Regions from separate parts of the Homo sapiens genome. Here regions 2, 3, 4, 5, 6 and 7 are each reported to be linked to region 1. The links are microRNA targets in miRTarBase. Many come from high-throughput screens and were not tested one by one. Region 1 holds a microRNA gene; each other region holds the end of a gene's coding sequence.

Evidence for each region. Region 1 holds the annotated microRNA hsa-miR-4306 (UGGAGAGAAAGGCAGUA, at 1,624-1,640, opposite strand). A microRNA usually pairs through its seed, bases 2 to 8, with sites in the 3' UTR of a target mRNA and lowers its output. Matches are read on the target gene's strand: a 7mer-m8 pairs with bases 2 to 8, a 7mer-A1 pairs with bases 2 to 7 and ends in A, and an 8mer does both.
Region 2: the mRNA of TERB2 is a reported target of hsa-miR-4306. Seed matches in the 3' UTR shown: 7mer-A1 at 770-776 and 7mer-m8 at 831-837.
Region 3: miRTarBase lists BHLHA15 as a target of hsa-miR-4306. Seed matches in the 3' UTR shown: 7mer-A1 at 998-1,004.
Region 4: miRTarBase lists CDC37 as a target of hsa-miR-4306. Seed matches in the 3' UTR shown: 7mer-A1 at 995-1,001 and 7mer-A1 at 1,011-1,017.
Region 5: miRTarBase lists RAMAC as a target of hsa-miR-4306. Seed matches in the 3' UTR shown: 7mer-m8 at 1,771-1,777.
Region 6: the mRNA of ZNF385A is a reported target of hsa-miR-4306. Seed matches in the 3' UTR shown: 7mer-m8 at 1,117-1,123.
Region 7: miRTarBase lists C10orf105 as a target of hsa-miR-4306. Seed matches in the 3' UTR shown: 7mer-A1 at 1,377-1,383, 7mer-A1 at 1,638-1,644, 8mer at 2,484-2,491 and 7mer-m8 at 3,395-3,401.

The regions. Positions count from the first base shown.
Region 1 is chr13:99,640,519-99,644,762 of GRCh38, reverse strand. It overlaps MIR4306 (microRNA 4306), which reads right to left and starts at 1,704; the gene lies at 1,614-1,704. The region is part of intron 1 of CLYBL (citramalyl-CoA lyase); the gene reads right to left.
Region 2 is chr15:44,978,137-44,982,380 of GRCh38, forward strand. TERB2 (telomere repeat binding bouquet formation protein 2) reads left to right here. Exons shown (of 7, transcript NM_152448.3): 7 at 353-1,093. The coding sequence ends at 492. Among named protein-coding and RNA genes, the nearest start is that of TERB2, 24 kb to the left of the region's middle. RefSeq lists a silencer at 1,942-2,142.
Region 3 is chr7:98,212,304-98,216,547 of GRCh38, forward strand. It overlaps BHLHA15 (basic helix-loop-helix family member a15), which reads left to right. Exons shown (of 2, transcript NM_177455.4): 2 at 1-3,154. The coding sequence starts at 7. The coding sequence ends at 576. TECPR1 (tectonin beta-propeller repeat containing 1) reads right to left here. Exons shown (of 26, transcript NM_015395.3): 26 at 2,321-4,244. Among named protein-coding and RNA genes, the nearest start is that of BHLHA15, 3.0 kb to the left of the region's middle.
Region 4 is chr19:10,388,156-10,392,399 of GRCh38, reverse strand. It overlaps CDC37 (cell division cycle 37, HSP90 cochaperone), which reads left to right. Exons shown (of 8, transcript NM_007065.4): 8 at 694-1,267. The coding sequence ends at 849. Among named protein-coding and RNA genes, the nearest start is that of TYK2, 9.7 kb to the right of the region's middle. RefSeq lists enhancers at 3,506-3,565, 3,145-3,645.
Region 5 is chr15:82,989,157-82,993,400 of GRCh38, forward strand. RAMAC (RNA guanine-7 methyltransferase activating subunit) reads left to right here. Exons shown (of 4, transcript NM_031452.4): 3 at 1-32; 4 at 725-1,901. The coding sequence ends at 911. It also overlaps a transcript of C15orf40 not described here. Among named protein-coding and RNA genes, the nearest start is that of RAMAC, 5.1 kb to the left of the region's middle.
Region 6 is chr12:54,367,029-54,371,272 of GRCh38, reverse strand. It overlaps ZNF385A (zinc finger protein 385A), which reads left to right. Exons shown (of 7, transcript NM_015481.3): 5 at 177-346; 6 at 552-647; 7 at 787-2,137. The coding sequence ends at 1,017. All of the region lies in intron 1 of GPR84-AS1 (GPR84, ZNF385A, ITGA5 and GTSF1 antisense RNA 1), which reads right to left. Among named protein-coding and RNA genes, the nearest start is that of GPR84, 4.7 kb to the right of the region's middle.
Region 7 is chr10:71,712,699-71,716,698 of GRCh38, reverse strand. C10orf105 (chromosome 10 open reading frame 105) reads left to right here. Exons shown (of 2, transcript NM_001164375.3): 2 at 357-4,000. The coding sequence starts at 362. The coding sequence ends at 763. CDH23 (cadherin related 23) reads right to left here. Exons shown (of 70, transcript NM_022124.6): 28 at 3,886-4,000. Among named protein-coding and RNA genes, the nearest start is that of C10orf105, 5.1 kb to the left of the region's middle.

The sequences.
Region 1 (4,244 bases):
TGTTCTCACTCACTTGTGGGAGCTGAAAGTTAAAACAATTGAAATCATGGGGACAGAGACTAGAATATTGGTTATCAGGGGCTGGGAAGGGTAGTGGGGTAGAGGAAGGAAACTGGGGATGGTTAATGAGTACAAAAATCCAGTGAGATAGAAAGAAGTAAGTTCTAGTATTTGATAGTACAACAGGATAACTACAGTCAACAATAATTTATTATATATTTAAAAATAACTACAAGAGTATAACTGGAATGTTTGAAACACAAAGAAATGACAAATGCTTGAGGTCAGAGATACCCTATTTACCTTGATGTGATTATTACACATTGTATACCTATATCAAAACATTTCATGTACCCCATAAATATATACACTATGTACCTATTAAAATTTTTAAAATAAATAGTCTTAAGGTAACAGTTTTCAAATTTTTTTTTACTGCAACCCACAGGAAGAAGTGTATTTATAGTGAGAGCTTGCACATGCATACATACACCATATATACATACATACACCACATATACATACATACACCACATATACATACACCACATATACACATACACCACATATACATACATACACATGTACATACATACACCACATATACATACATACACCACATATACATACATACACCACATATACATACATACACCACATATAAAAAACCAAAAGTTTCATAAGACAAAATGTGTGATGGGCTCAGAATTGAATATTTCCTATTATGTTACAGTTCTTTTTTTTTTTTTTTTTTTTTTGAGACAGAGTCTTGTTCTGTCGCCCAGGCTGGAGTGCAATGGCGCAGTCTGGATTCACTGCAACCTCCGCCTCCTGGGTTCAAGCGATTCTCCTGCCTCAGCCTCCCGAAAAGTTGGGATTACAGGCGCCGCCACCACTCCCAGTTAATTTTTGTATTTTTAGTGGAGACGGGGTTTCACCATGTTGGTCAGGCTGGTCTGCAACTCCTGACCTCATGCTCCACCTGCCTCAGCCTCCCAAAGTGCTGGGATTACAGGCGTGAGCCACTGCGCCGGGCCTATGGTTCATTTTTTAAAACGCTCATTGTGACCTAATAAATTAACTTCCCAGATGACTCATGGGTTTGGACCCACAACATAAAACACCACTGCCCCAAACAATCTGAACCGAGGCGCACAGAATAGTAAGTGGTAGCTACTGACATTGAGTCTCACAACTTCCTCCACTGGACATTGAAATTATAATTATAAACAGAAATATAAAATTGAGACAATTTCTTGAAAATGTTTCAGAAATGCATATGCCCCTTGGTTTCAGGCTTCTACCTGTTTTAGCTCTTCTTTTTCTAACTGGTTGAAAATGCAGGTATTGGCAGAAAACCTGAGGATAATTACAGACCCTAGATGACAAAGACAGAGATGGCAAATCATGCTGATGAAAAGCCTGAAGATCTGTAAATCAGAAAAACAAAATTCCTGGTTATTCAGAATATACAGACATCATTCCAATCAAAACTTGGCCTTTGGCACCGGAGCAGTGAGGCAAACTGGCTGGTCATGAGAACAGGCATTACTTCTGGCCACTCCAGAGGCAGGTGGAAGCAGAGCGTCCAAGCCTTCAAGCCCCTTGGTCTTGGTACAGACCTACTGCCTTTCTCTCCAGAGGACAGTCAAAAGATTCTGGGTTAGGGATGCCTCTGGAGACTCTAAGGACACTAAGCAGCTTAAAAGGGCTTCTATGAGCCCATGAGTAAAGTCCTCATGCAGGCCTCACCCAGCAAGCAGTTGAGCTCAGTGTATTAGAAATGAGAGCAGCCTGCGCAACATAGTAAGACCTTGGCTCTACAAAAAATAAAAAATTAGCCAGGCGTGGTGGTGTATGCCTGTAGCTGTAGCTAGTTGGGAGGCTGAGGTGGGAGGATGGTTTGAGCCTGGGAGGTTAAGGCTGCAGTGAGCCAAGATTGCACTACTGCACTCCAGCCTGAGCAACAGGAAAAAAAAGGAAAGAAAATAAAAGAGCAACGGAGGAAGGGAGGGAGGGAGGGAAGCAGGCAGGCAGGAAGGAGAGGCTGGGCATGGTGGCTCATGCCTGTAACCCCAGCACTTGGGAAGAATGAGGCAGAAGGATCACCTGAACCCAGGAGTTTGAGACCAGCCTGGACAACATGGGGAGACCTCATCTCTACAAAAATAAATTAAAAAATGAGCCAGGCCAGGTGGCACACACCTGAAGTCTTAGCTACTCGGGAAGCTGAGGTGGGAGGATTGCTTGAGCCTGGGAGCTGTGACCTGCAGTGAGCTGTGATCGTGCCACTGCACTCCAGCCTGGGCAACAGGGCAAGATCCTGTCTCAATAATAATAATAATAATAACAATAATCATAAAAAATAGAAATGAGCCAATACTCTGATTTTCACCCCAAGATGGATTCAAGCAACATTCCCAAGACCACCGCCAGCCCTCCTACAACCAGCTTTGGCTGATGGTGACTGAATATGCTCGGTGCCCAGGGTCACCCTCACTAGAGGCACGCCTCAGCCAGAGCACAGCACTGAAGAGTCAGCATGCACAGGGCTGAGGCCACCGCCCCCTGCAATGAGAATGGGCTCCCCAGCCAAATCTACCCACAGCTGGGGTCATAAGATGAGAATCCTTCCCAGCAATCCCTCAGATTCCTCTTTCCTTGTGTCTGAGAGCCTGGTACCCTCACAAGTGTTCTTCCCCAGGGTGTCTGTCCTCCTTGAGACATGTCCTATGGGTTTTCATCCCCATATGTGTTTTCTGCATTGTCATATTTTAAATCCCATTCAAGAGACTGCAGAACATTATTTCCAAATTTAATTTCATATGGTTTGAATGACATTTCCAAAAGGAAAATGCACCAATCTCAGAAATGTTTTACTCCACTGATTCATTCTTAACTTTCCATTTCTGTACCTTCTTTCCTTCTTGTGTTGGACTATTTTTTTTTTAAAGATGGAGTCTCGCTCTGTCACCCAGGCTGGAGTGCAGTGGTGCGATCTCAGCTCACTGCAAGCTCCACCTCCCGGGTTCACGCCATTCTCCTGCCTCAGCCTCCCAAGTAGCTGGGACTACAGGTGCACGCTGCCATGCCTGGCTAATTTTTTTTTTTTTTGTATTTTTAGTAGAGATGGGGTTTCACCGTGCTAGCCAGGATGGTCTTGATCTCCTGACCTCATGATCCGCCCACCTTGGCTTCCCAAAAGTGCTGAGATTACAGGTGCCTGCCACCGTGCCCGGCTAATTTTCTGTACTTCTAGTAGAGACGGGGTTTCACTGTGTTAGCCAGGATGGTCTTGATCTCCTGACCTCGTGATCCACCCACCTCGGCCTCCCAAAGTGCTGGGATTACAGGCGTGAGCCACTGCACCTGGCCGTGTTGTACTATTTTTAAGAAATAAAGTGATTTTTTTGGTATAATAAATAATGGGAAGATGCACAATGTCAATACCAAACTTAAATAGCTTTGATTCATTTGGGTTCCCACCTTCATCCACTTATAATTCATTTTAACCTATAGGTTATAAATGATTAATTACTCATATTTTAAAATCATCAAAAAACTTATATCATTGAGGTTGTATCAACTACAAACAATGTATGACTGTAGGCTTGCACTGGTGATCTGAGAAAAGGCTCCCAGCAGGACTGAAGGCAAGAATATTCAGAGAACGCTCAATAGAAAACTGTTACATACTTTTCAAATTTTCATTTGGTGATATGATTCATAAAACCAACTAATGAGAATTCTATATTAGAAAAACAATATATGTAAACCAAAGTAAAACTAGCTACTAATTTTTTTGTTAAGTCCTCCCATAAAGGGAATGTTTTCCAGAAATGTGTTAGCAGGAGTAGCTTGGATCTGCACTGTCCACCATATATTCGTATATATCCACGTGTGCATTTAGGTGCCTAGGTCTATATCTGGGTACATGCATACAAATTTCCTGAGCAGTCAAAATCCTATTGGTCGTAAGACAAAAGAGCAGGGGCACTGCCCATGAAGTTATCAGATCCAGGCCTTCAGTTTCTAATTGAACACTTCAGGGCTACTTTTATCATGTGTCAACTTGAAACCCACACTCAATTTTTCCTTTTAAACCATGTTGCGTCTGTAATACAGCAATGTTTTGGATATACTGTGGCAAGCTCTGCTAGGAATACTCCTTTAGAAGCAGAGCTTAACCAACGCTGAAAAGGAGGGAAGCCTGCTAAATGTTTTCACAGCTGTCAACTACTCAA
Region 2 (4,244 bases), not on the chromosome of region 1:
ATAGTTCTAAGTGATTACCGTCTAAGCTAGAAACACTTCCCAGTTATTTTTATCTAAGTTCTTTTATGTCCTAGCCCCAACCTAGACATCACAATCTCAATAGTCAAAGCAGCTTTAATCCACCTTTTAATATTTTAAAAGGTGGCAGAAAGTTGTGGGAGGGGAAGAGGAGGTGTTCCCGGATAATTATAAGGTTTCATGGAGAATCTTCTCACTGGTATTATTTCTTCTTTTTACTTCTTTTCTAAAAACATTCTTTAGAAGTCTTAACTCTAATAAATCAAAGACACTGAAAAGCAAATAGTATGAGCGGGTTTTAAGTATATATCTTTTTTTAAATTTTATTTTGTAGGTTATATATCAATTGATGCCATGAAGAAATTCCTTGGGGAGCTACATGACTTCATTCCTGGAACCTCAGGATATTTGGCATATCATGTTCAAAATGAAATTAATATGTCTGCTATAAAAAACAAATTGAAGAGGAAATAGTAAATTAAATTGTAAATACCTTGGCATTTATTTTCTATAAAATATTATACAGATGTGCATATCATAAAATGCTCCCTTTTGGTACTGGGGGATAGTGAAATGGGAAATAATTTTTCTGTTTCTCAAAGTATATCTTTAGGAAATACAGAATCATTTTGGTTCTGTGTTTTGACATTTTTCCCCTAGCTTTTAACAACATGTTCAAATATTCTCAATGCACAGTTGTTAATGAGTAATTGCCGTTAAAATATATTTCATAAGAAGTCTCAATCTCAAACTCTCCATCTCTCAATCCTCCTCCTCCTCCTCTTTCTTGCTTTCTCTTTTCCCTCTCTCTTTCTCTCCTCCCCTTCTCTCTTTCTGTCTTTCAAATGTTCTTTTGGCTTTAACATTCTATTAATTATATTTTTTCTAGATTGAATACTGTGAATGCTAAGTTTTATTAATCTGGTCATCTTATTTTGATTTTAAAAATTAGGATGCTAGTTGCATTCTGAATTACTGTTTCTGGTTTGAAACATGGAGAAAAACATTTTAATAATTCATATTTCATGTTGGATGGTTTCTAATAATAAATATCTCAAAAGTGACTTAACATAAACAGACTATGAGTGTTATGTCTTGTTAGATGAACCTGCAAGTCACCTTAGAATCACAGTTCTAGAATGGAACTTAAAGAACGAGTCCAGTTCACTTATTGTTTTTAATGAGGAAATAAGGACCTTGAGAAGATGTCTTACTTAGGGGGACTAACTGGGGGCCAAAACAGAATTGGAACACAACCATCTTGATTTTCTAGGCAAGTGCTTCCCCACTCTCCCAAATAGCATACGCTGTAGCTTCTGTGCCAGGTACAATACAACTGCAGATCCGCAAAGCAGACCCAGAAACAAGCCAACATGCTTGCCTTTTAATAAGCTGAAATAGTGAGGGAGAAGAAAAGGAAAAATCAGTTAGGCAGACCACTAAGGCTAGTCTTCTGAGAAAGAGCCTGAAAAAATCACAGCTACAGGCATAAATAGAGCAGCCTGGGGAAAAACCAAACTGCACCTGCACTGATAAGAAGGCAAGGCCCAGCATAGAGCCTTTGTTCTTTGTGTGATTAGCAGGCTCTCAGGAAAAAAATTCCTCCCATTTTCAGGCATTTACATGGTGGGCTCTGTGGGAACTTGCACAGGGAGGTGAGGGGCTTGCCTAAAACAGACCCACAGTTACACAAACAAGAGAAGCTGCACTTTGTGCTTACCCAAGATATACAAAGATAAGGAGAGTTACATACACAGCTTCATAGATAAGGGAAGTTACACAAACAGCTACAGAGTTGAGGGGAGTTTCACATAAAAGCTTTTGGATTCAACTGTAAAAACAGCAGCTCACTCGGGTCCGTTCTCCACTGTGGAGAGCTTTCTTTCTTTTGCTTATAAAAGTTTTGCTCCAACCTCACCCTTGTGTCCAGCCTCCTTAATTTTCTTGGTTGTGAAACAATGAGCTCAGATAACACCTCAAACTACAAGACCATTGACCCTAGACAGTTTCATTAGTATTGAGTTGTAGTCATTTCAAGAAGGCAGTTTGTTATCTTTATTCATATGGCCATGCTATATAGAGTCTGATTGGTTTATTACATTTTTGTGTCTTATAAATGACAGTGTTATTTGTGAAGCTATCATCTTAGAACTGTACTTCTTCCAAGCAAGTGAATACCAGCTGTAGAATTATCTAAAGAAAATGCACACTTTTTTTTAGTGCTTGGACCATTTGGGTATATGTGGGCCCTGGCCCTGGCCCTTCTCCCCTGACTCAAATTTCATAAGACAAAATTTTAACACTACTTTTGGCATCAGCATTTGAGAATTATATTTTTCCATATGATAACTTTTCCTTATTTATATTCACATCTGTGGTTAAGCCCTTCAGATCTTGTAAATTACACAAAAAACAGAAAAGACAAAAACCTTAAATGTTAATTATCTTTCCCTGAAACACATTTCTCCTGAATACTTTATCGTAGTTACATACCATTGATTGTTTCTTGTATAGAAACCAAGCCTGTCTGTAAATCTTAAATTAATGACTAAGAGGATTAAGTAAATGTACACCAAGTTGTGTATGTTGGAATTTCTTGAAAGAGAGTATCCAGTATTTTTCTGATATATTATGCATGTGTAAATTAAAAATTATAATGAAACAGTTTTTTAGGTTTGTTTCCCAAAGTGATTATATCTTTAGGTGTATATAATAAAGCAAAATGTAACCTATATCCTTGAAATATTGTCAGGCACAATAAAATCAGTGATAACATAAGCCTTCCAGGAATTAGAAGCATATGAAAAAATAAAATAAGCAAAGTTGAACTAGTTTTAAGTTTATTGTCTTAATGGGAAGTGAAAAGCAATATGATCTTAGTTACTGCTCATGTAACCTTTTTTAAAAAATTGCTTTAATGTAGCTGATGGATATTGCCTCTGAATATCCTTATAAAAAATGTTCTCTGGCCGGGCACGGTGGCTCAGGCCTGTAATCCCAGCACTTTGGGAGGCCAAGGTGGGCAGATCATGAGGTCAGGAGATTGAGATCATCCTGGCCAACAAGGTGAAATCCCGTCTCTACTAAAAATACAAAAATTAGCTGGGCATGGCGGCACGTGCCTGTAATCCCAGCTACTCAGGAGGCTGAGGCAGGAGAATCCCTTGAACCTGGGAGGTGGAGGTTGCAGGAAATAATATGGAATTGTAGTAGAGATAAAAGAAATTAATAAAATAGGAAACAAACTTACAATAGAAATGATCAACAAATCAAGAAGTTGAGTTTTGAAGACTAAAAGAAATTTATAAATTTCTGACTGGATTGGCCAAGAGAAAGAAAGAAGGCACAGATAATATCAAAAATGAAGAGAGGAATACTTCTCAGATTCTAGAGACATTTAAAAAAATTATGACCAAATTAATGTCAATAAATTTGAACATTTACATGAACTATTTAAATTTCTAGGAAATATATCTTACTAAAACTGCCATGAAAAAGAGAAAATCTGAGCAGTCCTTTAACTGGGAAAAATAGTGATTTTATAATATTAAAAATCTTCCTACAGCCCCACTAATTACTAGATTTTGTCATCTTAGTGAGCTATGTAACTTGTTTCCGCATCTGAGAAATGAAGATAGTAACAATGCCATAGTAATATTGAAGGATTAAATGAGAAAATGCCTGTAAAAGTGCATTGCACAGGGCCTAGCATTTGCCACATGATCAATGCAGCTTGCCTTTATTAGTTTCCTTTACAGCTATGGTGTATCACTGAGTGCAGAATGTGTGTGTTCTTCAGGCTCCCTTGTGTGCAGGCTCTGAAAGGTAAAGGGGCCTGCTCTTTGTTCTGAAGTAAAACTGCTCAGGGCATTAGGTGGATCTGAAATTTAAAAATAAAATTGAAAGTAAATCAATCTTTTCCTTAAATCAGATTGTCTCTGCTTTTGTTTTGCACACCTGCCTCAATATCAGTCTTGGAATTTTTTTCCTGCTGTTGTGGGTGCAATTTTTGTGATATGTACAGAACCACCTACCCTACTCCAGGCCTTGGATCCTGACCTTAGTGGCTTGGAAAAGGCTGTCACTTAGAATTTACACTCCAGTCCTCACTATCACTGTCTCCATTCTTCTTCCATCTCCCCACCCTGGGGTGATTTCCCAGCCTGCTATTTGATTTTCCATTCGTATGGTTCCCCTAATCTCCAGAGCATGTAGTACTCACTAGC
Region 3 (4,244 bases), not on the chromosome of region 1:
AGGGCCATGAAGACCAAGAACCGGCCCCCACGGCGCCGGGCCCCGGTGCAGGACACAGAGGCCACCCCCGGGGAGGGGACGCCCGACGGGTCCCTGCCGAACCCGGGGCCAGAGCCGGCCAAGGGTCTGCGGAGCCGGCCGGCCCGGGCCGCAGCAAGGGCTCCGGGCGAGGGCAGGCGCAGGCGGCCAGGACCCTCCGGGCCCGGTGGCCGTCGTGACAGCAGCATCCAGCGGCGGCTGGAGAGCAACGAGAGGGAGCGGCAGCGGATGCACAAGCTAAATAACGCCTTCCAGGCCCTGCGTGAAGTCATCCCCCACGTGCGCGCGGACAAGAAGCTCTCCAAGATCGAGACGCTCACGCTGGCCAAGAACTACATCAAATCGCTGACGGCCACCATCCTGACCATGTCCAGCAGCCGCCTCCCAGGCCTGGAGGGGCCGGGCCCCAAGCTCTACCAGCACTACCAGCAGCAGCAGCAGGTGGCTGGGGGTGCGTTGGGGGCCACGGAGGCCCAGCCCCAGGGCCACCTGCAGAGGTACTCCACGCAGATCCACAGCTTCCGAGAGGGCACCTAGCGCCCAGTCCTGGGTGGGGGTGGCGGTGGCCGCAGCTGCCTGGCCTGCTCCTCCCAGCCCCAGTCCCTCCAAGCCACGAGCCCCAGATGGGCGGTGACACCCCACAAGGACACGGCCTCAGCGGTTCCATTTTCCCCCGAACATTCAGCCACTTCCCTGGAGCAATTTTTCCTGCCCCGCTGGGGACCAGCGAGTGGCCTAGTTGCGGCTGTGGCCCTGGACAGCGGCGTGAGGCCCAAACCTCTAGGTAGGGCCCAGTTGGATCCTGATTTTTCATTGAGCCAGGCAGTCTCAGCCCGAGTTGAAAGGCCTCCTTAGCCTTGGAACTAACGTCTCTTCACCCTGACTTCTGGGCAAGGGGAGATCCCAGGAAAAGGTTTACCTGCAGGTTTTCCAAGGCCAAAGCCCCAGCAAGGACCCCCTCTCCAACCTTTGTTATAGGGCTACATGGGGCCTGGGCTCAGCATCCTCATTTGGGGTAAACTGAGGCCCGGGACAAGCCCGGCAGAGCCTAAGGCTGCTCGGGGAGTGGGGCCAATCAGAGATGATTGGAGCTGCCAGAAACTCTAATCAGATGACCTCCAATTCATCCTTAAAAGTTGAATGGTGGGGAGGGGCTGGAGTCTCTTCCTCCCTCCTCCCAAGTTGGGGCTCCTGGATGTGTTGACTCCAGGCTGTGCCTGGTTGTGGAGGGTCTGGGGCAGGGTGTGAGGGGTGCTGTGGAACTGGAGCAGGAGACAGGGCTGGGTGTTCCTGGTGCAGCCCTTCTGGGCATGGGAGAGAAGCCCCAAGGCCCTGGGTTGCTCCCCAAGAGCAGCTCTGAGGCCTCCTGCTCAGCCCTGGCCTGTGTGGGGAGCGAGTGTGCCCCCCACCCAGCCCCTGCCACCGCCGTTACTTATTCTCACTGATGTGGGGTTATCATATAATTGGCACCATGCTGTCTGTAGGACATTATGACGTGCTTGGGTTCTGGTTTGAGTTGGCAGCCCGTTGGGTCTCTCTGCCTGGTGGAGCCTTGGGGTGGCAGGTACGTCCCTTCCCCCGCCCAGGTGCTTCATCCTCATGGCCAGGCCTGGTGGCTTGGCACGTCTCTGCTGCCCCAAGCCCAGCTTCCTTCTGCTGGGCGTTCCTGCCCCACTGGCTCTGCCGGACTTGGCTACTGGACTCTCCCCTCCCTCATGCCTCTGCCCAGAGATGTCCCAAAGGCCCTCAGGGCCAAGCCGGGCCAGGGATGTGGCTGCCACAGCTGAGACCAAGGGCTCTGGCTGGCCCGTCCCCACCAGGTGGCCCTGCCCTCCCCAAGTTGGGGGTTGTGGCACTTGGGGTCAGGCCTAGCCACGTAAGGACACAGGTAACACCCTGAGGATCTGGCATTGGCAGCTTCAGGCCTAACTTTCCTGGTCAGGGCCCCTTAAGGTGGCCCGGGCACATTGGTTTCATTTCGATGAGACTTTGTCAGAGGCCTGGTCTGGTCCTGGCCCTACCGCCCCAGCTGTCCTTCAGCACAGCTCGGGGTGGGGACTCCAGGATGCTGGGTCTGCCCCTTGGGAGGGGCACTCTGGAAGGTCAGGGTGATCCACAACTGTGAGCTGAGGTTGGATGCAGCTGGGAGCTTGGGACAGAGAGAGCCCAGGGCTCCCCTGCTGTGGGGCACCTGCCCAGCGGGGACATGAGATGACAGAGACCTCCCCGGCGGGGGTACTCAGGTGCTACGAACATGGCAGCTCTTGTTTCCGGCTGAGCCATGGCCAGAGCAGGGCTCAGTCTGCCCCTGAACTTGCTGAATGGACCGACGAGCTGAGCCTGAAAGCCCAGAAGAGCCTCGGTCCAGAAGACGGAGACTCGGCCCGGTGTCCAGCGCAGCCCAGGGCTTCCTGGGGGGCAGCAGGAGTGCCTGGGGGTCACCGCCTTCAGGACAATGGCCTCAGTGGCTCTTTCTTTCTGCCCTGAACTGGCACCTGCACCTCCTCTGCTTCCTAGAGGGTGACCTGGGCCGAGCCGCCCAGTCCTTCTTCCCCTGAGGCCAGAGGGGACGCCCCGCGGCCACATCACACAGGATCCTCAGCAGCCATAGTCTCGCTTCAGGGTGTCCAGTGTTTCGAGGAGGAGAGGGGACAGGGGCCAGGTCCACTCCCTTGGCCCTCCTCTTGGACCCCAAGGCCAGGCCGGATCCTTTTATCCCGTGGGGAGCCCCTGCCTCGGCCATCGGGATGAGGTCCCTCAAGTCCCTGCACAAGCAGGTCAGAGACCCACCCACATGCCGTTCCTGGGCTACGCCACGCGCCATCCCCCGGGGCTGTGGACGCACCCAGCCCCCGACAGACAGGCGCCCTGAGAGCTCCGAAGGCGCGATCCCCATCCCCACCAGTGGAGAAGCCAGAACCGCGATTGTTGCATCTGGGAAAACCCAGCTGGAGCCGAACGGCCCGTGCCCCCACTGTAATTGTGCTGAAAATGTTTCTCAAATGACCCAAATTGGCTCTTATTTTTTCTAATGGCCCTTTCAAAGTATTCATGAAATTGATGCTGTGTCATAAAACAAAAATAAAAGATTTCACAGCAATGTCTGCTTCAGGCACACGGGGAACCACGCGTTTTAATCAACGTATCGATAAAAAACACCAGGGCACGGACACTCCAGGGGAAATGCTTATTGAGTAAAGTATCCGAGGAAGTGATGCAGGGCAGGTAAACAGCTGGTGCTCAGCAGCGAGAGGACGCGTCACTCTGCCGTTCTGCAGGGTGACGCCCTCCCCGTACCTCGCTGAGAGCCACCTGCAGACACAGCAGGCCACAGCAGAATGCACAGGTCACTGTTGTAGGGGAACAAATCGTAATGCCCAGAGAAAACCTGATAGTGAAATGTAAACAGACAGGACAGGGTGGTTCCAGGTGGCCACCACCGCCAGGCCCTTCCCGTGATTGATCTGAGAGCTTCACAGCCGGCGGCACTGGGACCCATTTCCAGAAACACTGGAACACCAGGTCTCTCAGATGCCCGCGGGAGGGGCCCCAGGGAGGCCTTTCTCAGCATCAGCTTTTGGGTGACAAACCCCATACAGCAAAACTGTACAAATACACACAACGGACCCCCAGCTGACAGTGAGACCAGGACCCTAGGAAGGTCAGGTGGTGGTGAAGTCATCCCCTCTCCAACCGAGCAGAGCCTGGGGTTGGGCTCTGATGACCTCCCGGGCAAAGTGTCCAGGTGGAGGAAGCAAACTCCCAAATGGGGCACAGAGGTAATAAAAAGCAGCTGAGAGACTGCGGGATGGGGTCGGGGCCACTTGGCCGACACCTTCTGCCTCGCCTGGCCGGGCCGGGCCAGCCTCTCGCCACAGGATGGAGGGTGACTGTGCACCCTGCTCCATGTACAGGACGGGCTGAGGGTCCCATGGCCACTGCCGACAGACACAGTAGTACTGCTCCCCACAGAAGCCCGCAGTCTGCACCCTCCTACAACATGATTTGACATCCAAGAAGCCCCTGTCACCAGCGCATCTGGGGAAGGGGCCGAATGGGGGTTGATGATGGTGACTGCACACACGGACACTGCCTCCAGCCATGGGGCAGCCTCTCATCCTCTCCCAGCCTCCCGTCTGGTACCCCGGCCCCCTCAGGGAAGAGGACATCCCATCCACTCCAGTGTTATTTCCAATCTGCTGTCT
Region 4 (4,244 bases), not on the chromosome of region 1:
CTAGAAGCTTCTATGGGCATAGCCATCTAGACCAGGTTCTGCAAACCGCAGCTCCCAGACTCACTGCCTGTCTTTATAATAAAGTTTTATTAGAACAAAGAAGCCACACTCAATTGTTTCCCTATCATCTACAACCGATCTTGCTCTACCACAGCAGAGTTGAGTCGTGATGGAGACCATATGGCTCACGGAACCAGAAATATTTAGTCTGTCCCTTTACCAAAAAAAAATTTGCTGGCTTTTGTTCTAGATTGCACTATCTAAATTTAAATTAAAGTTAAATAAAATTTAAATTTCCAGCTGGGTACGGTGGCTCACGCCTGTAATCTCAGTGCTTTGGGAGGCCAAGGCAGGCAGATCACCTAAGGGCAGGAGTTCAAGACCAGCCTGGCCAACATGGCAAAACCCCATCTCTACTAAAAGTAAAATTAGCCAGGCATGGTGACAGGCGTCGGTAACCCCAGCTACTTGGGAGGCTGAGGCAGGAGAATCACTTGAACCTGGGAGGTGGAGGTTGCAGTGAACCGAGATTGCACCACTGCACTCCAGCCTGGGTGACAGAGTGAGACTCCGTCTCAAATAGGTAAAATATCAATAGGCAGGAAGCCAGCTTGGGGATGTGCAAGGGACAACGGGGACAACGGGGACCACCGGCTGGCGGCCCCACCTCATCTGCCTGCCTTCTCCTCACAGGACGCAAAGTACCACATGCAGCGCTGCATTGACTCTGGCCTCTGGGTCCCCAACTCTAAGGCCAGCGAGGCCAAGGAGGGAGAGGAGGCAGGTCCTGGGGACCCATTACTGGAAGCTGTTCCCAAGACGGGCGATGAGAAGGATGTCAGTGTGTGACCTGCCCCAGCTACCACCGCCACCTGCTTCCAGGCCCCTATGTGCCCCTTTTCAGAAAACAGATAGATGCCATCTCGCCCGCTCCTGACTTCCTCTACTTGCGCTGCTCGGCCCAGCCTGGGGGGCCCGCCCAGCCCTCCCTGGCCTCTCCACTGTCTCCACTCTCCAGCGCCCATTCAAGTCTCTGCTTTGAGTCAAGGGGCTTCACTGCCTGCAGCCCCCCATCAGCATTATGCCAAAGGCCCGGGGGTCCGGGGAAGGGCAGAGGTCACCAGGCTGGTCTACCAGGTAGTTGGGGAGGGTCCCCAGCCAAGGGGCCGGCTCTCGTCACTGGGCTCTGTTTTCACTGTTCGTCTGCTGTCTGTGTCTTCTATTTGGCAAACAGCAATGATCTTCCAATAAAAGATTTCAGATGCTCTCTGGGCTGCTGGGAGGGCCGTTCAGGCAGCCCATCTCTTGTAGGTGGGAGGGAAACTTGGTGGGATATTGGGGGCTGAGCTGTGCTTCTCTGGTCCTTTGCCCACCAGCCATCGTGGGTCCTCGCCTCACACATGCTGTTCCACAACTTGGAACAGTCTTCTTCCAGAGGCCTCAAAAGCCCCCAACCTTCAGTCTCACCCACCCACTCCCTTGTCCCTACTTGGACCTCCAGAATGCAGGGTGGCCCAAGCTGATCACCACCAGAGGGCAGTAGTGATCTGCAAACCAAGTCACATTCCCTAGGGTTTTGTGGATCTGGCGCACCTGCCCGCACCCCACACCTTTCCAGCTTCCTACAACCTTTTGGAGCAGCATCCTGGATGGACTATATCTCCCCACCCTATGGCCAGCGCTGCCCCCAAACAGATTTTTTTTTTTTTTTTTTTTTGAGAGTCCAGCTATCACCCAGGCTGGAGTGCGGTGGTGGAATCTCGGATCACTACAACCTCCACCTCCCAGGTTCAAGTGATTCTCCTGCCTCAGCCTCCTGCTGGGATTATAGGCACCCGCCACCACACTCGGCTAATTTTTTGTGTTTTTAGTAGACATGGGGTTTCACCATATTGGCCACACTAGTCTTGAACTCCTGACCTCAGGTGATCCTCCCACTTTGGCCTCCCAAAGTGCTGGGATTACAGGTGTGAGCCGCTGCACTTGGCCCCACCCCCCCAAACATTCTTGATTCTGACCACTGCCTTTTGTCCCTATGGCCTTCAGGTCCCCATCGCCTCTGGCTCTAATTCCTGCCCCAGCCTCCTCCTCATTCCCCACTACAAGTCAGCCCCTGAACAGGCAGCAGCCAGAGGGTACCTGTGAACACCCAGGTCAGGGCATGTCCCACCTCTGCTCAAAAGCCTCGCAGGACTCCCCTCCCTGGGAGCAGAAGCCGAAGTCCTCCCTGCAACTGACCAGGCCCCCAGCACCATCTGCCTGTTGCCTCGCTGCCCTGTTGTCCCCAACTCCATGCTGGCCCTTGAGCACTTGAAATTTCTCTTCGTGTGGCTTTGGGTGATGCGCTGAGCCTCAGTGTCCCTGCTCTTAGGGCTAACGTCGTCGCGCTAGTGCCCTCCTCAGGCCGTAGTGAGGGGGACAAGTGAGGTAATGGTTCAGACAACTGGCACCTGGCACTCAGATTCTCTGAACGGGGACCTTGGCACTTGCTGGCCGTCTTCAAAAGTCACAAAATATTTCTGCCACAGGAAAAGTCTTAAAGAAGAGTGCACGGCCAGGCGTGGCTCACACCTGTAATCCCAACACTTTGGGAGACTGAGGCAGGAGGATCACTTGAGCCCAGGAGTTCAAGACCAGCCTGGCTAACATGGTGAAACCCAGTCTGCACTAAAAACACAAAAATTAGCCAGGTATGGTGGCACGTGCCTGTAGTCCCAGCTACTCAGGAAGCTGAGGCAGGAGAACTGCTTGAACCTGAGAGGTGGAGGTTGCAGTGAGCCAGGATCACGCCACTGCGCTCCAACCTGGGTGACAAAGACTTATCTCAAAAACAACAACAACAACAAAAAAAAAAAACAGTGCTGGGCGCAGTGGGGCGCACCTGTAGTTACAGATACTTGGGAGGCTAAGGCAGGAGGATTGCTTGAGCCCGGGAGGTCAAGGCTGCAGTGAGCTAAGATCAAAGTACAATAAATACCCAGGTTCACATCAGTTTAAGACATGAAATACCTCCGATCCAGTAGACTTATGCCTACCTCTCCTGGGGGACATCATCTCTGAGGGGACTGCTTGTCACTCAGACCACAGATCAATGCCACTTCTCTGAGGCCCTCCTTGACCTACTTTAATTCCCCTCATGCTCAGCCACCAAACCTGCCTCACATGCCTTTCTTCACACAGACCTGTGTATTGTCACCTCCCATGTACTGTGGGTGCCACCAGAGCACGGACTTTTTCTTGCAACATACACAGTGCCAGAAAGGGGACCTTCAGGAAACATTTGCAAAAGCATTGGATAAAAACCCCTGGAATGCTGTTGTGCCCAAGCCGATCACCACCAGGGGGCAGGAGTGAGCTGCAAATCTAGTAACTTTCCTTAGTGTTTTGTATGAGTGAGAACGACAGGTAGGAGCTGCAGGGGGACTCCTGGAACCCTGATTGAGCCTCAGACACCTTCCAAGATCTTTTTATTTATTTATTTTTCAGAGACAGGGTTCTCTCCATGTTGTTCAGGCTGGATTTGAACAGAGCTGAAGCAGTCTGCTCGCCTCAGCTTCCCAAAGTGTTGGGACTACAGGCCAGTGTGCCCTGCCGAGTAAAAATTTTAATTTTTGAGCGGGGCGCGGTGGCTTACGCCTGTAATCCCAGCACTTTGGGAGGCCGAGGAGGGCGGGTCACAAGGTCAGGAGTCCGCGACCAGCCTGACCAACATGGTGGAACCCCGTCTGTACAAAAAATACAAAACTTAGCCAGGCGTGGTGGCACGTGCCTGTAATCCCAGCTACTCGGGAAGCTGAGGCAGGAGAATCGCTTGAACCCGGGAGGCAGAGGTTGCAGTGAGCCAAGATCGCGCCACTGCACTCCAGCCTGGACAACAGAGTGAGACTCCGTCTCAAAAATAATAATAATAATAATAATTTTTGTTCATCATACACATTTTGGTGTTAATTTCAGTTTTTCAAAATACTGCATTCCTTGTTATTGAAGATTTTGTTTGTATTTTGTGAGACTGAGTCTCACTCTGTCGCCCAGGCTGGAGTGCAGTCGCATGATCTCGGGCTCACTGCAACCTCTGCCTCCCAGTTTCAAGGGATTCTCCCTCCTCAGCCTCCCAAGTAGCTGGGATTACAGGCGCACTCCACCACACCTGGCTTTTTTTTTTTTTTTTTTTTGAGACAGAGTCTCACTCTGTCGCCCAGGCTGGAGTGCAGTGGCATGATCTCGGCTCACTGCAAGCTCCACCT
Region 5 (4,244 bases), not on the chromosome of region 1:
GCTGGTGGGAACCAAAGAAACAGAGGCAATCGGTGTGTATTCAAAAGAATAAATGCAGATAGTTGATCTGGCAGAGGATAGCTTTAATCTGCTAGACTGGAAGGCCAGTGAGGGCAGGGACCAGTGTTTTTGGTATGGCATACCTAGTACCTAATAACAGTACCTGGTACATCATTTCTGATAAATATTTGCTTTAATATTTTTTCAGCACCATGTATTTTTTCCTTGCTGTTCAAGTGCGTGTGTTTTTTTGTTTTTAGATGTTTTTTCTGTAGACTAATATTTTCAATGCAAATCTACTTTAAAAACCTAGAGTTTTCTACAGCTTGTTCAATTCCATAAAGAAAACATTGTTTCGATTTTACTTTAGGAAGAAGTTTACAAATGGAAGTTACTTTTACTTAATAATTCAAAATAGTCAAAGGAATAAATTACCATACCATTTTTGTACAATTGAATAGATTTCACTTTAATTTGGAACTATTCTATTGGTTATATAGTCTGCCTATGTCTCTGTAAAGTGTACCTAGTATAATACTGGAAGAATGATTTCAATCTTAGGAAAGTTTTGAATAACTGGCACTATAACATTCTATTGTGAAAAATGTTTTTTAGTCTTATTTATTGTGTATTAGAATGAGAAACCAGAAGCACTGCTATGGGTTTGTCATATGTTTTTTTTAACAAGGGAAGTTTAAAGATCTTTTTTGTTTTATTGTTGTAGGTTGCAAGACAACAGACAGTTCAGAGGCAGGGACAACAGATGGGGGTGGCCAAGTGACAATCGATCCAATCAGTGGCATGGACGATCCTGGGGTAACAACTACCCGCAACACAGACAAGAACCTTACTATCCCCAGCAATATGGACATTATGGTTACAACCAGCGGCCTCCTTACGGTTACTACTGATAGAAATGTTGGCAGCTTTTAGTAAAAGCATTTACTCTGTTACCATGAGAAAAGTTTGGGTGTCTTCTGTTGGTCATAGTTTTACATCTGATTTTACAGAATGGATTATTGATTTTTTGGAAGTTGAGACTTTAAAAAAAATAGATCTTACTTGCGAAATGCGATGGTTGCTGGGAATACCTGAAACTGTGGATTATATTGCTTGACTTCTACCTCAGAATCTTCTTTGTTTCATGACTTAATAGTGCTTTAAGTTTGGTATATTATTTGACCTCTAGGAATTCTTTGTTTTACACAGAAATAAAAATTTTAAAATAGAAAATGCTTTTACTTTGTAAGGTAAGAGAGTATCCATATGCTTAGATGTGCTCGTTTCTAAAATTCTAGAGGTTGATATAATCAGCTCATGAATGCACAGCTATGCTTTTTGTGATAGATTGTACATAACATCAGCAGTTGAAAGGTAAAACAATTGCTTTTTTTTTTTTTTGCATTTGTTAAGTGACTATGGTACTTTGTGATTCCTTAATCTATAGATGAGTCAGCTCCACACTTGAGTCTCTTTTTAGAGGGAAATCAGTAATAAAGCTGTAAAATAAGGAAGGAATCATTGTCAGTTTGTGTCTTGATCTGGTGGTGGTTGGGATAAGGGTACACATCATTTTATACAAACACTAAAGCTTTTTGCTAACAACATAGCAGGTCAAAATTCACACATAAGAAAGTTTAACTCTGTACTGTTCACACTTTTTAATCCTGTAAATAATGCTGCATTTTGATGGTTCTTACTTTTTTGGTATTTAATGTGGGCTGATTTTACAATGTTATATTCACTTCCAGATGCATACCTCTGCTGCTTTCTCTCCTATAAATAGTGATGCTATAAACTTCCTTTCACAGAGATCATTCTATTTCAAATCACTTTAATGATTATTACAATGATTTCATTCAAATAAAAATTTTAAAATATTTAAGCATCTTCACTCCCAAGTTCTGGCAGTTAGCCCATTTATTAATATGGTGAAATGAGATTTTTGGGTTTTTTTATGCTGTCCTTCATATCTGTTGAAAAGGGCTTATTTGGTTTAACAGTAACATTAAGAGTGCAAATTTCAACATAGGTCAAAGGAATTAACAGGCACCTTCCTGACTTTATTAGAGTGACAAAAAAATATATATATTTAAAAAGGCGTCTTCCAGCCAGGCATGGTGGCTCATGCCTGTAGTCCCAGCACTTTGGGAGGCTGTGGGCGGATCACTTGGGGTCAGGAGTTCGAGACCAGCCTGACCAACATGATGAGACCCCGTCTCTACTAAAAATACAAAAATTAGCCGGGTGTGGTGGCACATGCCTGTAATCCCAGCTACTCGGGAGGCTGAGGCAGGACAATTGTTTGAAGCCCAGAGGCGGAAGTTGCAGTGAGCCAAGATCGTGCCACTGCACTCCAGCCTGGGCAACAGAGCAAGACTTCATCTCATAAAAAAAACGGGGGCATCTTCGTAAACCTATTTTTAATGCCTTCTCTCTTAGCACCCCACTCTAGGCCCTCGAGGTTGACTTCTCCAGGTACTTCATGCTCTCCATCTACCTCTCCCTTTTATTCTCCCTTCCTGAAGAGCCATCCTCTCGGGTAACTGTTTTATTGGAAATGACCTAATAAGTCGGGCAGTCACACTAAGATGCAAATACAATTTTAATAGTAAGGGTTTTCCCTGTAACCTCCCTAATTACATCAGTAGGCAAGAAGCCAGTGCTGTTATATAAAGATAGGATTTGATACTACAGATATTTAGTCTAGATAGTAATGTCCTGACTACACCCCAGAATCTTCTCTGAAAGCAGAAGTGTTATCAAAAATATCACCTGGTTGGGTATGGTGGCTCACACCTGTTATCCCAGCACTCTGGGAGGCCGAGGCGGGAAGATCACTTGAAGCCAGGAGTTCGAGGCCAGCCTGGGCAATGTAGCAAGATCCTGTCTCTACAGAAAATTTTAAAATTAGCTGGGTGTGGTGGTGCACGCCTGTAGTCCTAGCTACTCAGGAGGCTGAGGCAGGAGGCTCCCTTGAGTCCGGGAAGAGTTCAAGACTACAGTGAGCTAGGATCATGGCACTGTACTCCAGTTTGGGCTAGATAGATGCTGTCTCTTAAAAGTAATGATTTATAGGCTGGGCACGGTGGCTCACAGTTGTAATCGCAGCACTTTGGGGGGCTGAGATGGGCAGATCACCCCAGGTGAGGAGTTCGAGACCAGCCTGGCCAATATGGTGAAATCCTGTCTCTATTAAAAATACGAAAATTAGCCAGGCATGGTGGCGGATGCCTGTAATCCCAGTTACTCGGGAGACTGAGTTAAGAGAATCACTTGAACCTGGGAGGTGGAGGTGGCAGTGACCTGAGACCATGCCATTGCACTCCAGCCTGGGCAACAAGAGCGAAACTCTCTCAAAGAAAAAAAAAAAGATTTATAAAATCATCTCCTGAGAAAGCACAGGCACTGACCAGTAGTTGGGACAGTATAGCTGACTGTAGCTTTAGGTCAGGATTCTGTGCTGTGCCAGCTGTTGACACAAAGGGAGATGTATGGGTCCAAGGCCAGCGCTGGAGGAGTACTTCTCAGGAAGCTCAGAAGAGAGGTGGTTTTCCAACAGTATTTAAATGTTTTAACACCCAACACAGCTAGGCTGCTTGTGTCCTGAGTATCAGCCGTGCTTGAAAAAATGGGAGGAAACCTTTTAACATGAGTAAATTCTGCATGCTGCATGAATAATCTATGTTGTTATGGTTTTTGTTTTTTAACAGCAGTTACTATCAGACTGTACCCCTGCCCCTGATCTGCTTAAAACCAGGAAGAAATAAAAGGTACAGTTTCTGCTTCATAAGACAGAAAATAACATGAAAAAAAGCTTAAAGATAATTTAAGAGTGAGAGCAAATAAAATAGTGTCAAATAGAATTAATTTCAAGTAGTCTGTTGTAATAACATATGGCATTAGGTATAAGGAATCCTAGCTTCCAGTTCTGTGCTTAAAACATATGTGACCGTGAGAAAATCATGTAAACACTGAGCTTATTGGCTCAGCTGTAAAAATGGGGACAATACCCACCCTGCCACCCTCACAGAATTATAAAAATAAATAATCAAAGGAAGAACTTGAGAATATAGAGTTGTGACCATTAAATCCCTAGTAGGACACAATAGGTGCTGCATAAACATTTGTTGAATCAACGGGAGGGAAGTATTTGGTAAATTGTAAAGCGTAGTGTTGACATAAAGGATGTAGAGTAACGGGCAGAAGATGAGGTAGGGCAGAAGACGTTGAGAATTAAGGAT
Region 6 (4,244 bases), not on the chromosome of region 1:
TGACTCTCTCCTGATCCACCTCTTTGGGAGGGTCCCAAGGAGCTTAGTTAGAAAGAACCCACACTGTGCCCACCCTCTTCCCCCTCATATTGTACCTGGGAATGTGCATTCTGAGGCCCAGTAGGCCTGGATAATTTTTCTTCCACCCCTTACCTCCTGCCCTCTCTGGGCTCCAGGTACTAAGCACAAGACAATTCTGGAGGCCCGAAGTGGGCTCGGGCCCATCAAAGCTTACCCTCGGCTGGGGCCTCCCACCCCGGGGGAACCAGAGGCTCCTGCCCAGGACCGAACTTTCCACTGTGAGATCTGCAATGTCAAGGTCAACTCGGAGGTCCAACTGAAACAGGTGGGTCTAAGGCCCTTCCCAGGAATTCTGGGACGCTCCACCCGCTAAGTGGGGAAGGGGAGCAAGGAGCTTGAGTAAAGGCCCTTCTTCAGAGTTTTCCCCAGGGGGCCAGATGGGAGGGGGCCGGTGCTTGGAGCTTGATTATACTCCCTCGCTGTTGCCCCTTTCCGGGAGCTCACAGCCCCCTATCCACTGGCCCCCGCAGCACATCTCCAGCCGGCGGCACCGAGACGGCGTGGCCGGGAAGCCCAACCCACTACTGAGCCGTCACAAGAAGTCTAGGGGCGCCGGGGAGCTGGCGGTGAGGCCTGGATGCTGGGAATTCAGCAGTGGGAGGGCGCGGGCGGGGAGGAGAGAGGGACGCGGGCTTTGCCCAGGGAGAGGTGGGGTTTGCAGGACCGCCGGGTGACTTCTCTTCCTCCGCCTTTCGCCCGCTTCAGGGCACGCTGACTTTCTCCAAGGAGCTGCCCAAGTCCCTGGCGGGCGGCCTGCTCCCCAGCCCCCTGGCGGTGGCTGCAGTGATGGCAGCGGCAGCAGGCTCGCCGCTGTCCCTGCGCCCGGCTCCAGCCGCACCTCTTCTCCAGGGACCGCCGATCACTCACCCTCTGCTTCACCCGGCCCCCGGACCCATCCGAACTGCGCACGGACCCATCCTCTTCTCCCCGTACTGACCTCAACCCTGAACCCCTCCCATTCAACTCCCCACCTCCAGCCGGGACCCAGGCGTCCGGGCTCCCAGCCCGCCCCTCCTCCCGGCACTCCCTAAATGATCTCTCCTTCCCCCCCCCCACCCCGAGATACGGGGTTCCAGGAAAGGGGAGGGGTAGCGGGGGAGGGGGGCTTCAGAAGGGGGGGAACACCCCAGATCTCAGGGAACCCCGCCCCCTGCCTTTCCCTCTCCCCTAGAAAAGGGGGGGCCGTCTCACCCCCGAGCCCCCTTGGAGACACCCCCCCTCCCAAAAGCCATGTCCATCCAGCCCTTCCCCCCAAACCTAGCACAAAACGGGGTTCACAAGCCATGGTCGGGGTCCGGGGGGGACAGAAATGGATTTTCTTGGCAATAAGCGGACTCTGGGACTCCGGCTCCCTACCCCAAACTGAAGCGCTTCCGTGAACACCCCCGTCCTCCGTAGGGGGAGGGGAGCAGGCGGGATCCTGGGTCCCTCATAAGCACTTTGGTTTTACCGCCTGCAACCTCACTGTGCCCGCCCCGCACCATGCCCTAGCCCCAGGTCTAGCCGGGCCCATTGCAGGGGGCAGCACTTGGGGGCATCTCCGGCACTTGGGTGGGACCAAGGAGATGCCACCATAGACCTTTCCCTCGCCTTCTTCCTCCCTAGTCCGGGTTCCATTCTTTTCACCAGCACCCATCGCCCAAGGGGTACCGAGGGGGGCAAGGGGTGTCCAGTCCAAGCCCACCCCCGCCTCGCCTTCCGCAAAACTGTGAGCAAAAAGCAATAGAAGCCTCGCCCCCGCCCTTCCCCTTCGCAGGATTCGCCGAGTCTGTAGCCTCCCCGATCCAAGTTCCTAGACCTCATGGCTGTCCCCTCCCACCAGTCACCTCCACTGCACAACTCGGGCGGGGGTGTGACACCTCTCCCCCACCCCCGACTCCGTGGTTTCCGTATCGTCAACCCTTCAGCCGCCGACCCGGGAGGGGTCTGGCCTACACTGGTCTTCCCCTTCCCATCAACTCTTTCTGCTTGACAATGTAGCAACCCAGGCCCCCCACCCACGGTCCTCCCCTTTTTCCTCTCCCTGACAATAAAGTCTGAATTTGTTCTGCCCTCCGCCCCTAGACTCAGACTCTGTCTTTGCCCGCTGTTTTGGGAGCAATTCTGTCGTTAAATGTATCTGTATGGGACCGGCACAGAAAGAGGAAAGGGAGCGAGAAGGAGGAGGGAAACGGAAATCGGGGGTGGGGGAGGCAAAATATGAGGCTTGTGCAGAGTGAGCAGAGGCTCCCCATCCCACCCACGCCCACTCTCGTCCAGCTCGTGTAAACTTGGCCTGGGGGATCATTTCTAGTCCAAGTCTGGGACTGCAGCTGCAGCTGTTGAGAATTTGCCACAACTCCACAAGGCGGCGCCAACGACCCGGAAAAGGAGTCTAAGCCCGAGGCTAAGCCGCTCCTGTAATGTGTTTCGAGATTCCACGCAGATGGGTCTAGACTCAGTCTCAGACAAAGAAAAGAATCCAGGCTTTTGTGTGTCTGGTGGGAAACCCACGCCAGCGAGACTCAAGGCACAGGAAGAAACGGGGGGCAGAGACTGGGGATCTGAGCTCTAGGCTCTGGCCCCACATAAATAGTGACCTTGAGTCAGTCCTTGCCCTCTCTGGACCTCAGTGTCACAGTCTTCAAAATAAGGAGACTTGAGTCTTTCAAAGGTTCATTAAGATCTCATGTATCCAAGACTGAAGAACTGAGACTGTGCCATTTACAGATATACTGGAATACCTTCTCAACTGGCCCCTAAATGGTCTGTGGAACAGGGAAACACTGTTCAGCTGTCTCTCACATGGTATGTGAGGAAAATGGTTTCTCCGTTATCTCCAAAATGTGGTTCAACCATACACTCCCAAGAGCAGCCAGTAATCCTGACCCCCTCTATCCCTACTGAGAGGCAGGAAGTTCAAACAAAAAAGCCCAAACCAAAACCCAGAATCTATGTGAGTTCCTCCCGACTTTCATCTCTGCTCACTTCCCCCACTCTACCCACTTCCCAGTCTTGCAGAAGAAAGGAGGAGGGAAGTTGGGATGATGTCTGTTAAACAGGAAAGAGAGGGGAATGGGGGACTCCTGGGTTTGTCAACTGTGAGGCTGAAAGGAGGGTGTTCACTGTGGGTTCAGAATTGGAACCCAATAAGGAGTGTTTTGGTGTTTGTTTGCATGTTTGTTTCCAGGTAAATCTAGCTTTAAAAGGGGTGGGAGGATTCAGAAGGATGCGGGACAAGAGAGGCCCTATAGAAGAGTGGGTAGAGAAAAGCAGGGGCTGGGTCACATGTGGGGAAGGAGATAGGGACTGGAAGAAATTGGGGTTAGAGAGTCTGGGATCCTAGCAGACCCCACAAGTACTTCAAGTCTGCTAGTTTAAAACTGAATTCATTATTTACCCCTTTCCCTAAGCCTGCTCCTCCTCCCACATTTCCTATCTTATTAAGAGCACCACCATCTGTCTGGAAAACAGAAAGTTATCCTAGTTCCTCCTTCTTCCTAACTCTTCATCCAATGAATCACTAAATAAGTCCTATTTGACCTCCTAACAACCTATGGATCCTTATCATTCCTCCATTCCCACAACCACTGCCCTAACCAGGACTGGCTCCATAATTTGTGGGACCCAGTGCAAAATGAAAAAGCAGAGCCCCTTATTCAAAAAGTATAGTATTAAGAATTTAAAAACAGTGATTGACGAGCATTTAACCAAGCACCAGGCCCTTCAAACTGCAAGGCCCTATGCAGTTGTACAGGTGGTCTGGCCCTAACTTAGGGCCATTCTATCTCTCGTCTGAACTAGTGCCTCTTTACCCATTTCGCTCACTCCCAGGCTGCACGCCTTCATTCTTTACTCACAGCAATCTAAGTGCAAATCTCACCAACTCCTTCAGCATGAAACCAGCTCCTTAGCACGATACACAAGGTCCCCCTTGACCCTGCCTGCTCAACTCTCCAAGCTCTTCTCTGTTGTTCTCTACCTCATGCCCTTTGTTGGCTTCTACCTGAACCTCTGCGCCTCTACACATACTGTTCTCTTTGTCTAGAATGTCCCTCTACTTATCTCCCAAAAAACTCTCCTGTTCATCATTCAGAATGCAGCTCAGTAACCTCTCTGTGAACCCTTTCCTCACCTCCTACTTAATAGTATGCTCCTTTTCTCTAAGCCTCTGATATATCATT
Region 7 (4,000 bases), not on the chromosome of region 1:
AAGTTATTGACAGAGTTGGTCTTAAGTTTCCAGGCCTAAGACCCTGTGATGATTCATGAGGATTGATTTGAAAATGCGGACAGGCCACCGCCCTCTTGTCTGCATGGCAGATGGGCACAGGGTGGAACAGGAAGAGGGCCTGAGCTTGGGCCCAGCTCCATCACTGCTCAGCTGTGTGTACACTTAGACTTGTGATGTCTCTGGACCTTGCTGTCTTAACCTGTGATGTGGCCATGATGCTGTCCAGTTTAACAGTGCCTTGCCCCCATCCACATTCCCTAGGTAAGTCTTCCCTATACCCGCTGCCCTGGGTCCAGCTGATCTGCCTTTGAGCTTCTGTCTTGTTGCTGTTGCAGGAGCCATGAGCACAGAGGGCCCCAGCCTCGCCAGCTCCCCAGCCATCAGCCCCCTCGCCTTTCTCTCAGCTCCCGTCACTCCCGGGACCCTTGCAGAGGCAACTGACCCCCTCCCCATGCTCATCGCCCTGGCCTGCATCTTCCTCCTGCTGGCCACCTGTCTGCTGTTCATGACGCTCTGCAAGCCGGCCGCGCTGGACCCGAGCCGCCGCAGGGCTCACGAGTGCATGCCCCACCACCCTGGGAGCCCCAGTGAGCCCCAGCTCCGGCTCTGGAAGCGCCTGGGCTCCTTGCGCCTCTCCCTGCACAGCTTCCGCCATGGCCGGCCCACCGTCCCTCGACAGCCCCTGCCGGGCCCCGAGGACAACCGCAGCCACTGTGACTACATGGAATCTACCAAGATGTAATGGGGTGTCCACAAACATGCCCCCACATCCCCCTAGGTCTACCTGTAGATCCTCCTGCTTCAGAGACCGGTGCTGCAGGCTGCAGGAAGACAGTGGCCCAAGCAGTCTGGGACACACACTCACCCCCCGAAGCTCCTTGCATGCCCAGGCCAGCGCCCTTTCCCAAAGATGATCCTCAGAAGAGCACCTTCCTCTCTGCAGACCCCCTCGCTGCTGCTTGATGAAAGACTTCTGGTCAAGAGATGTGCACTCGTGGTCATCTGGGCCTTTGGCCTGAGGCTCCACAGGGTACAACCTGGGGCTCGTAACCACCTCCTAGAAGCAGCACCCTCGCTCGCCACAGAAGCCTTGCCCTCCAGGTGCCAAAGCCCAGCATGGAGAAGTTGCCAAATGGCAAAGGTTCCCTTTAGTCAAGTGAAATGCTCAGCCTACACCGGGGCCAAGACACTGTCCTGGCATCTGTGCTGGCCCAGTGCTGGGGCAAAACCTCGGGGCTCTCTTCCTTGGGTTTCCCGGGTGCTGCCAGCATCTGCCTGGTGCCCTGTGGGAGCAGCTGCCTCCCTCCTGGTGGAACAGATGCCTGGGTGCCAGCTGGGAGGAGGAGCAAACAGGGCTCTCCAAGCATGGTCTTGGCAGCCGTCTTGGTGGCCCCTCTTCAGGGCACCCACGTTGGGATCAATCAGGAAGGGATTGAAGATGATCGAGGAGGCTCCCTTCAGAGGCCAGGGCGGGTGCTGTGACAGAGTGGCAAGAGGCAGGGCATTTCCAGCAGCTGGAGGTGATGCCACCTGGACTCGGAGGAGGACAGCTCACAGCAGCTCCACACCTCACCCAGGGAAAGCGGCAGCCTCCCCGAGGGTGGGATGGTCTGGACCTCTCCAGGACAGCTGTGGGGTCCCAAGTCCTGCCCACACTAGGGATGCTATCTGTGGTTTTGGTGAGTGCTTTGCTGATGACCCGTCAAAGCAGTCCCACCCCAGGATGGGCTTCTCAGAATCCCAAACCCTTGACCTCTCCTCACAACGCGAGGGTTAAACACTTTGGTCAGGTCCCAAATTTGAAGGGTGGGCAGAGGGAGGACCTGGGCTGCCCAGCTCCTGTCCCAGTCAGCTGGCCAGGATCCCACCACAAAGCTGCCCCACCCCCATCCTGCTGTGACCCACAGTGCAGCCAGCCACGTCTCCCCAAGGAGTGAGCTCTGGCTTGCCACTCCCCAGCTCCAAAACCTTCACTGGCTCCCTAATGCCAAATGGATATAGCCAAAGCTCCTCAGCGCAGTGTGCAGTGCCCTCTGGGAGCTGGCTCCAATTAATCTTTCTAGCCTCATCTTGATCCAAAACTCCAGGAAAACTGAAAGACCTGTCACCCACTAACTGTGGCTTATGCTTCACACACACCCACTCTGTGAAGCCCTCCTGCCTGGAGCCGCCCCTACTGTCTCCTACCTCTCTTGGGGAGGAAAAGGAACATTCTCTTGGCAGCATGGGTCCTTTTTGTCTATGTCTTCTCTTTCCTACCAGCTTGGGAGCTTGCAGAGAGCCAGACATTGTCCAGCCCCTCACTTTGACTCCCCAGTTCTGTGCACAGAAGTATGAGGCTTCTGTGTACAGAGTGAAGCGTGGCCCAGCCTGGGTGTGTCCCCACCCTCTGAGGCAGGAGTCTTGGTGGAAGCTGGCATAACACAGAGCCTCATCTTCCCTCAGATGACTCTAGAAAGATTTCTCTCCAAGCAGGCTCTATTGGAGAAGCCCACTGTCCCTTCCTTCCAAGTCAATCTGATCTCAAAAAGTGAGTCCGGCTTCACAAGAAACTTACCAAGAGGACCTTGGAGAAGTCATCCTGAGACGCTGCATTTCTCCCTGAGAAATGGGAGAACTCAGGGCTGCCCTATATTAACTCGCTGGCTCTAGGATTTCAGTAAGAGTAGTATTGTGTAAATAGAAACCAAGTCTTTGGGTTTAGAAAGTGGGGCAGGCCTCCTCCCTAAGGGTTTTGTTCCTTCCTCCCTTCCTGCTCAGTAACCTCTTCCTGGTTTGCTTCCCCTGGGGCCTCCCTGCAAATCCTAGGCTGGATTCAGCCTGTAGCCATCCACCTCACCAGCAGGCCCTGCTGGCCACTAGGCACTGTCTTCCTGGAGGTTGGGGTGGGGGTTGAGGCTGCCCTGAGGCCTGAAGAAGGAAAAGTCCAGGAGGGGGAGGGCTCTCAATTGGGTTTCAGGCACCAGGCCAGGGGGGTATGCTCCAAGTCCTCACAAGCTGAGGCCCTGATCGAGAGAACCCTCTACTTCCTCCTTCTGGAGCTAGCCACCACACTCTCGCAAATCCTCAGGGCTTTCTGGGCTCTCTGTGTTTCTGGGAGTCAGCTCCCTGCTCCCCAGCCCTTTCCTGCCCGCCTCCTGGTCCCGATGCAGGGAGGGGAGCATTGCCAGCCTCCCACGCTTCTGTCCCTCCCAAGCCCGGGAGCCTGCCCCAGTGGGCAGGCCCAGATTCCCTGTTTGGCTCAGCCTCCGAGTCGGAAACCCCATAGTTGGTAAAGAGACTCATTCACTCCGGGCCTCCCTCCCCACCCAGCAACTGAGGCCTCTGGGCAGAGGTGTGGGTGCACACCCAAATTGTTTTCAGGGTCCTCCCTTCTCTCCCTCTGAGCCTTGGAGCTGTTGCGCCTGCTCCCTGGGCAAAGGAGCCCTTTCTTCTTGTGCCTGTTTACTTCCCAAGAGGGGAGCCTCGGCCAAGGGCTCTGTGAAAGCAGCTCTGTTCTGGGCCTTGCTGGGCCCTGGCTCTCTTCTCAACTCCTTTCCGGGAAATTGTGACGTCTCTTTCTCCCCGCTACTCTGAAAGGCCCTTCTGGGTGGGGCGGGAGATATGCAGGGGGAGGCCAAGTCTTCCTCCTGTTTGTGGGGAGCCAGAGCCCTATCCTCAGCTCTGCAACCTGGGGGCCCACACTCCCTGGGATGGGAGAGGGCCTGGGTCCCCCTTTCCCCACAGCACCTTCCAGAGCAGCGGACCCACCCTGGGCCCCCACCTGCTTCCGCCTCTGGTGCCACTGAGCATGTGCCCTCAGGGCCGTGTGTGGCTCCGCCTCCCCCAGCCCACCACCTGCCCCAGAGGCCACGGGCCACCTGCCTGCAAGATGCTGTGGCCTTCAGGGATGTCCTCAGGGACGCTGGCCTCATAGCTGCTCTGCAGAAAGATGGGCCGGTTGTCATTCACATCCAGGACAGTGACGAACACGGTGGCT